2 linked regions of the Homo sapiens genome follow. The protein of the gene in region 1 purifies or fractionates together with the protein of each later gene. This does not show direct contact. Each region holds a gene or a part of one and is shown in the gene's direction. Other genes may lie near its edges.

Evidence for each region. The genes of interacting proteins can lie anywhere in the genome.
Region 2: the proteins of SCRT1 (region 1) and PRMT9 purify together in Homo sapiens (affinity purification with mass spectrometry; one large-scale study listed by BioGRID and IntAct). This does not show direct contact.

Annotation. Positions count from the first base shown.
Region 1 is NC_000008.11:144,334,357-144,338,103, reverse strand, and holds the start of SCRT1 (transcriptional repressor scratch 1), read left to right. Parts: upstream 1-1,621; 5' UTR 1,622-1,934; coding exon 1,935-2,049; intron 2,050-2,912; exon of another isoform or gene 2,913-3,117; intron 3,118-3,747. UniProt on the Homo sapiens protein: Transcriptional repressor that binds E-box motif CAGGTG. Can modulate the action of basic helix-loop-helix (bHLH) transcription factors, critical for neuronal differentiation.
Region 2 is NC_000004.12:147,667,129-147,670,775, reverse strand, and holds part of PRMT9 (protein arginine N-methyltransferase 9), read left to right. Parts: intron 1-32; coding exon 33-135; intron 136-2,130; coding exon 2,131-2,237; intron 2,238-3,647. UniProt on the Homo sapiens protein: Arginine methyltransferase that can both catalyze the formation of omega-N monomethylarginine (MMA) and symmetrical dimethylarginine (sDMA). Specifically mediates the symmetrical dimethylation of SF3B2.

The DNA of each region.
Region 1 (3,747 bases):
TCCCCGGGGCCCGCCCGCCGCGCGCTCCCAGCCGCTGTCCGCGGGTCCGCCCCGCGCAAGGTCATTTTGCGCCGCAACGAGCGCGCTCCAGTATCGCACGCGCTCCCGGCACACCCGCGCCCGGACGCTCCCCGGGGCCGCCCCCGCGACCTTGGTCCCCAGCGGCAGCGGGGCGCGTGGGAGCGCGCTCGGAGCCCGTAGACCCGGACCACCGGGCGGGGCGGGTGAGGGGACAATGGCGGCGCCAGGCCCTAATTGGGGACAGAGGCACCCGCGCGCGGCCATTGTGCGGCCCGGAGCCCCGGAGCCCCCGCGCCCGGCGCCCCGCCATTGGCCGCTGAGCCTGACGTCATGGGGGCTGCAAACGCTGGGCGGGCGGCCGAGGAAAGGGTTATCCGCCTGGTTGCGGGGCTGCCGTGGGGAGCTGCAGCCGCGCGGAAGGGCGGAAAACCCCCAAAGCAGCAGAATTTCTGGAGCAGGGTCGTGGCAGCCCCTCTCCAGCTCCACACCCGGCTCGCAGCGACGCCGCTGCGCCGCACACCCGCCCGGGGGGAGAGAGGCGGGGGCGGGTAGGCCCCTCCAGCGTGCACGGGGTCAGCCGGGGTGACCGAGCGGCGGGAGCCACTGCGGCACAGGGCGCGCGCTGCGCTTTCGCTGCCTCAGCACTTGCTCCTTCGGCTCCCGCCTCCCCCGCCCGCCCCCGCAGATCCCGCGCCCCAGGCCCCGAGCGAGGCAGGCGGGACTGGGGTCCTCCCTACGTTCCTCCCCACAAGACCCCGAGTCCGGGGCGCTTGGGTCCCAGGCCTGGCTCCATTTCTCCCCACACGCCCGACAATGCTGCTGGCTGCCGGGCCGCGGTTCCCCGAGCCGCGCGGGGGAATTCCCCACTCGCGCAGGCTGAGGCATCCCCGGGACCCCTCCCAGGAGACCCAGGCCGGGGCTCGGCCCAGCGCAGCCATTTCCGCCGGCCTCTCCCCCACCTCCCTCCCCCTCCCCCAGCTCCTGGGCTTTAAAAGCCAGAGGCTGGGCCGGGCCGCAGGCAGAGGCGGCTGCGGGCTCTGGAGGCCGGGCCCAGGAGCAGTCCGAGCGCCGAGCCCCGCCCCCGGAGCCCCTGTCCCTCCCTCCCTCCCTCCCTCGGCCCGCCCTCCCTGCGCACCCCTCCCCCCAGGACCCCCGCCCCCCGCCCGCCGCCGCCGCCGCCGCCGCCGCCGCCGTCGCCACTGCCGCTCGCTCCGGCTGCAGAACAATAAAGCAAGCCTCCCAGAGACCCCCGCCGAGGACCCCTGCCCGGCGGCCAAACCCCCGCGGACCGCCCCTCTCCGCCCGCGCCGGTTGAGCGCGCCCGGGCGCTGGCCGCGGTGCTGCCCAGGCCGGCGCTGGCCGCGGTGCTGAAGCTGCCGGCGCTGCCGCTGCCACCGCGTTCTCCGGGCCCGGCGCCGCCGCCCCCGGGGGCATGGGGGGCCGCTGACTGAGGCTCCGCCGCGGCGGCGGGGGGGGGGAGGGGAAGGGGGCCACCGAGCCGGGCCAGCCCTGCACCCACTCGCAGCCTCCAGGCCCGGGACGGAGCCGCTCCCCCCCTCTCCGCCCCCCCAGCCTCCTCCCCCGCCTGTCCAGGGGCGGCACTGCGGGCTGGGAAGCCGGGACCAGAGGAGGGAAGGAAGGAAGAGGAGAGGAGAGAAGAGGAGAGAAGGAAGGAAGGATTGAAGGAAGGAAGGAAGGATTGAAGGAAGGAGGAAGAAGAGGGATCCGGAGGGGCAACGGAGGAGACGCAGGGCAGCAAGGAGAGAGGACACCACTCGCGCGGCAGCATCCAAAGGCCAGAGTGGGGACCCGCGCTGCCTCCGCCGCTCCTCGGATGGTGACGGGGCCCTGCCGCCGCAGCCCCCCCAAGCCCCGGCTCCGCAGGCCCACAGCGCCGGAGCCCCGCAGGAATCATGCCCAGGTCCTTCCTGGTCAAGAAGGTCAAACTTGACGCGTTCTCTTCGGCCGACCTGGAGAGCGCCTACGGACGCGCCCGCAGCGACCTCGGCGCGCCACTGCACGATAAAGGTGAGCGCTGGTCTGAGACCAGGGCGCGGGGCCTGGGGCTTTGCTGGAAGCGGTGGAGGGCCAGAGTGTGGGGGCGGAGGGCAGGGCCCGGGGAAACAGACTGAAGGGAACCAGAAACGGCAAGAGTCTGTGGCTGGAGCCTGGACGGTAGAGGGGAGGAAGGGGAACACAGAGGCCAAGGCTGGGCAGGGAGAGTGTCGACGTTGGACAGAGGGTGGGGAAGAGGATCAGGAACTGAGGTACCCAAACGCACACATGGACCCACATCCTGACCCATGCTGGGACAGACACAGCCGCATGGGCGCTGCCATGACGGGACCCAGCCATGCCGGCACACACAGACCTACACTCAAGAGACCAGGGCCGCCTCGCCACCCTCTCCTCTTCCTTGACTGCACCAGGACACCTGCTAGGGTTAGCTGGGGAATGCAGGGAGCTCCAGGGAGTAGGCAGGGGGTCCAACAGGGCCGCCCACCTGTCAGAGCAGAGGGCCAGCAGAGGCAGCAGCAGTCTCTTCCCTGAAGCCTGGGTCAGGGAGAGGAAGCAGGGAGGAGGCTGTGAGCAAGGGACGCCCAAGGTGTGGGAGGCAGGGGGAGGCTCTTTGTGTAAGGGTGCCCAAGTTCAAGGACAACTGTCAGCATGCAGGAGAGGGGGACAGGAGTGCCAGCAGCATGGGGTGGCAGAGCAAGTGTGACCTGCAGGAGTGTGAGCCTGTGTGGGTCCATGTGACTGTGTGTGGCCATGTGACCGTGTGCGCTTGTGTGTGACCCTGTGTGTGTGTGTGCTTGCCTGTGTGCCACTACATGGGACCATGTGACTCTGAGGCCGCTGTGCACCATGTGACTTGAGAGTGTGTCCGGGGTGACTGCATGTGTGACCCTGCGTGAGTGAGGAGGTGGTGAGTTCGGCACATCAGTGTGCAGCCCACCCTGTGAGGGCACACAAGGGCTGATCATGCTGGGAGACTGGGTGTAGCCCTGAAGGAGGCAGAGCGTCGCGAGGGGCGTGCATTTGTGACTTTGAGGTTATGAGATCCATCTTGTGCCTGGGGAGCAACTGCAGCTACCGGTATAAGTGATGCTGCCCTCCTGCAGCTCGTCCCTGTGAAAGTGGACGCCCTGGCCCTCTCTGCACAGTTCAGGGGCTTGGGAAGGCCCTGAAAGGGGTTAGGGTGTGAGCAGGAGAGGGCAATGTTGAACAGGGTAGGACCCAAGGGTGCAGGATGGTGAGAGGGAGTTCGGAGGAGAAGCAGAGTGCATGGAGGAGCAGGGAGGGCAGGGTCAAGTCCAGTGGGTGGCCGGAGAGCTGAGGGAGGTGCTGGTGAGGCCGGAGGGAACTGGGGGAGGGAGACGTCTTCAGGGCTTGTTGGAGGAACCAGAAGGCCAGAGGGGGTCAACATCAAAATGGAGCGCACGTTCTGCAGGCCAGAGGGAGAGCCGGCCAGGACCCCGGAGAGGTGGGACAGACGGGGTCCCTGGGCCGGCAGTCCTGGCTTTGTGCGCCGCGGGTCTGCAGTGTGTTGCATAATCAGGGAAAACTGCTGAAGTGGGGAGAACCCGAGGGGGAGGGGAGGGTGGGTGGGGGAGGAGGGAGAGGGAAGCGCCGCCCCTCCCCCCTGACCTTGAGGCTCCGCGGAAGGGGGGCAGCCGCGCCCGAAGACGCGCCTCTCTCCTCCTCTCTGCGAGGGTGGGGCGGCGG
Region 2 (3,647 bases), on another chromosome or scaffold:
CTTACATATATCTTTAAAAAATCATTCTATAGAGTGTCCCTAGTTGTAACAGAAACTGTCGATGCAGGTTTATTTGGAGAAGGAATTGTGGAGAGTTTGATTCATGCATGGGAGCATTTACTTTTACAGCCAAAGGTAAGCAGTATGAAAATACTTACAACTGATTAAGAATTCGTTATTTCATCAGAGATTTATTGAATCCTTAGTATATTTACAAAACAATATGAAATATATTTTCCATTGCCAAGGTGTACATACTGTGTGGTTGGAAAGAAATCTATGCAAAAAACTTTTACTGGCCGGGTGCAGTGGCTCATGCCTGTAATCCCAGCACTTTGGGAGGCCAAGGTGGGTGGATCACCTGAGGTCGGGAGTTCGAGACCAGCCTTACCAACATGGAGAAACCCCATCTCTACTAAAAATACAAAATTAGCCGGGTGTGGTGGCGCATGCCTGTAATCCCAGCTACTTGGGAGGGTGAGGCAGGAGAATCGCTTGAACCCGGGAGGTGGAGGTTGCAGTGAGTTGAGGTCACGCCATTGCACTCCAGCCTGGGCAACAAGAGCGAAACTCCGTCTCAAACAAAACAAAACAAAACAAAACAAAACAACATAAAAACATTTACTAACAACATGATTCAATGTATAATTATGTGCCTGAATGAGATATACAGGCAAAAATACTCCAGGGAAGAATTCATAGGAATTGAGATTACTTTATGGACGGACTGACTATGGAATTCTTGAGTAGGGTTGAAAAACGGAGGTACTTTCAGTCTTACAGACCTCACTGCCTAGAATTTTGGCAAATTATCAGAAGGGAGTATAGTAATAGCTGGTTTGGTTCTGTTTTCAGGTACCTGTTGAACCCAGGCTATGGCTTGGACAGGACTATTATAATTGCCAAATTATATTTTGCATTGAAATCCTCTATTGTAGCCCACAAATCATTGATTTGGTTTATATGATATGTGTTATCAATGAAAGGATTTTAATATGTAATAAAAATTCAATATTAACAGAAAATTATTTGGATTTAAAATTGCTAGTTAAAGGTTGAAAAGAGCAGTTTTTTTTTTTTGAAGTAGCAACAGGGTTTCACCATGTTGGCCTGGCTGGTCTTGAACTCCTGGCCTTAAGTGATCCACCTGCCTTGGTCTCCCAAAGTGCTGGGATTGCAGGTGTGAGCGAACGCTCCTGGCCAAGCAATTTATTTTTTAAGTAGGTATTGATACTGATTTCTTGATCAAAGTCATACCCAAGTCTTTTTTTCTATGCAGACTTACAGTCCTTTCCCCCCCATCCTCCCTCTTTTCTTGTATCCTTTGCATTTGTATTGTGAGAAAAAAATATATATATTCATACATATATAGCAATGAAAATACTTATTCTGTTTTTTTGAGATGGGGTCTCACTCTCTTGCCCAGGTAGGAGCACAGTGGCACGTTTTTTAGCTTACTGCAGCCTCAAACTCCCGGGCTCAAGTGGCCCTCCCACCTCAGCCTCGCAATGTCACCACACTTGGCTAATTAAAAAAAACATTTTTTTTCTGTAGAGACAGGGTCTTGCTATGTTGCCTAGGCTGGTCTCAAACTCCTGGCCTCAAGTGGTCCTCTCTCCTTGGCTTTCCAAAGTGCTGGAATTGCAGGTGTGAGCTGCCAGGCCTGGCCAAAAATACTTTTTTTTTTTTAAAGATGGAGTCTTGCTCTGTAGCCCAGGCTGGAGTGCAGTGGCGTGATCTCGGCTCACTGCAGCCTCTGCCTCCTGGGTTCAAGCGATTCTCCTGCCTCAGCCTCCCAAGTAGCTGGGACTACAGGCGCGTGCCACCACGCCCAGCTAATTTTTTATGTTTTTAGTAGAGATGGGGTTTCACCGTGTTAGCCAGGATGGTCTTGATCTCCTGACCTCGTGATCCGCCTGCCTTGGCCTCCTAAAGTGCTGGGATTACAGGCGTGAGCTACAGTGCCCAGCCCAAAAATATTTTTTAAGGAAGAAAAAAAAACCTTTAACTTACTTTATCCTTACTTATTGTCTTTTTAGGTTTTTTAAATTATATTTTCATAGCTTATCATTATGCACACACATTTTTACATACATGTGATAACATAATTCTTATTGTTATTTTTTTTAGACCAAAGGTGAAAGTGCTAATTGTGAAAAGTATGGGAAAGTTATACCAGCAAGTGCTGTTATATTTGGGATGGCAGTAGAATGTGCAGAGATAAGAAGACATCATAGGTAAGTGTATTAGTCCATTTTCACACTGCTATAAAGCACCTCCCAAGATTGGGTAATTTATAAAGGAAAGAGGTTTAAATGACTCACAGTTCTGAATGCTGAGGAGGCCTCAGGAAACTTACAAACATGGCAGAAGGGGAAGCAGGCACGTCTTATATGGCAGCAGGCAGGTTATGGGGGGCAGAGAGAGAGAGAGAGACAGCACGAGACCACGTGGGTGAGTGTAGGAAAAACTACCATTTGTAAAACCATCAGATCTTGTGAGAATTCACTCCCTATCATGAGAACAGTGTGGAAGAAACCGTTCTCATAATCCAGTCACTTCCCTCCCTCAACTTGTGGGGATTACAATTTGAGATGAGATTTGGGTGGGGACACAGAGTCAAACCATATCAGTAAGTGACTATTTAAATAGTAAATATTGAAAAATAGTAATTATAAAGAGAATATTACAGAGGTTAGTTAGTGAATATGTATTTGGGTGAGGATTTGTAGTTTTGTGACCTTTAAATTCATGCTGCTTACACTGGTCTTATTTTTTTTTTTGCCTATTTTAAATGAAACTTCATGGTTAAAGCCAGTTTTTTTTTAATGGAAAATTAATTTTGATACAACTTAGGACTCTAGTTGTGATATATTCATGTAGAAAAATATTAAGTTCTGACTGATTTTAGGTGAAGTTGGAATGAAAGATTCCACTGTGAAAATAAATTTTGGTCTAATTACTTCAATTTCCCTTTTCTTAATAATTTCACTAATACTGTAATGATTTGTAGTTGGGCTGGATGGAATTTTAGGATCTTTCTAAGCTTCTTCCAATAACTTAATCGTAAATGTAGCATATAAATATTTTAGGACATACTGATAAGTGGTTTGAAAAAAATGAAAACCACTGTGAACCCCTCACCAGTAAGTAACTACTTTTCATCTTTGTTATATATTCCTTTACTCTTTTTCTTTGTATGTTACAGGGAGATAGTAAAAATGTTTAGAGATTGGTAGGACACAGGGCACTAACCAGACAGTGGACTTAATTAGCAGATTGGCTGAATTAGAATGTACTGGTTGAATATTAGTTCCATTTAAGTAAATGTAGGTGTGTGTAAATTTAATTTTGTTTAAAAACTCAGTAAATATATTTGCTTTTCCTTTGTGAGCCTTTTCATGTAATAGATTTGGTTCATGACTTTAAAAAATCAACTTCTTGGTGTTGTAGTTACTGGAGTTTAGAATTTTTGGATTGCTTCCACTTTTCTGCTTTTAAGAAGTAGGATAAACATCTTTGCACTTATGTCTTGTGGACTTGTTTCTATTATTTTCTTAGGATAAATTCCTTAATAAGGAATTACTGGGTTAAAGAATATGTACAGTTTTCAGGCTGTAGGGATGCCTTACTGCATTGCCCACCAG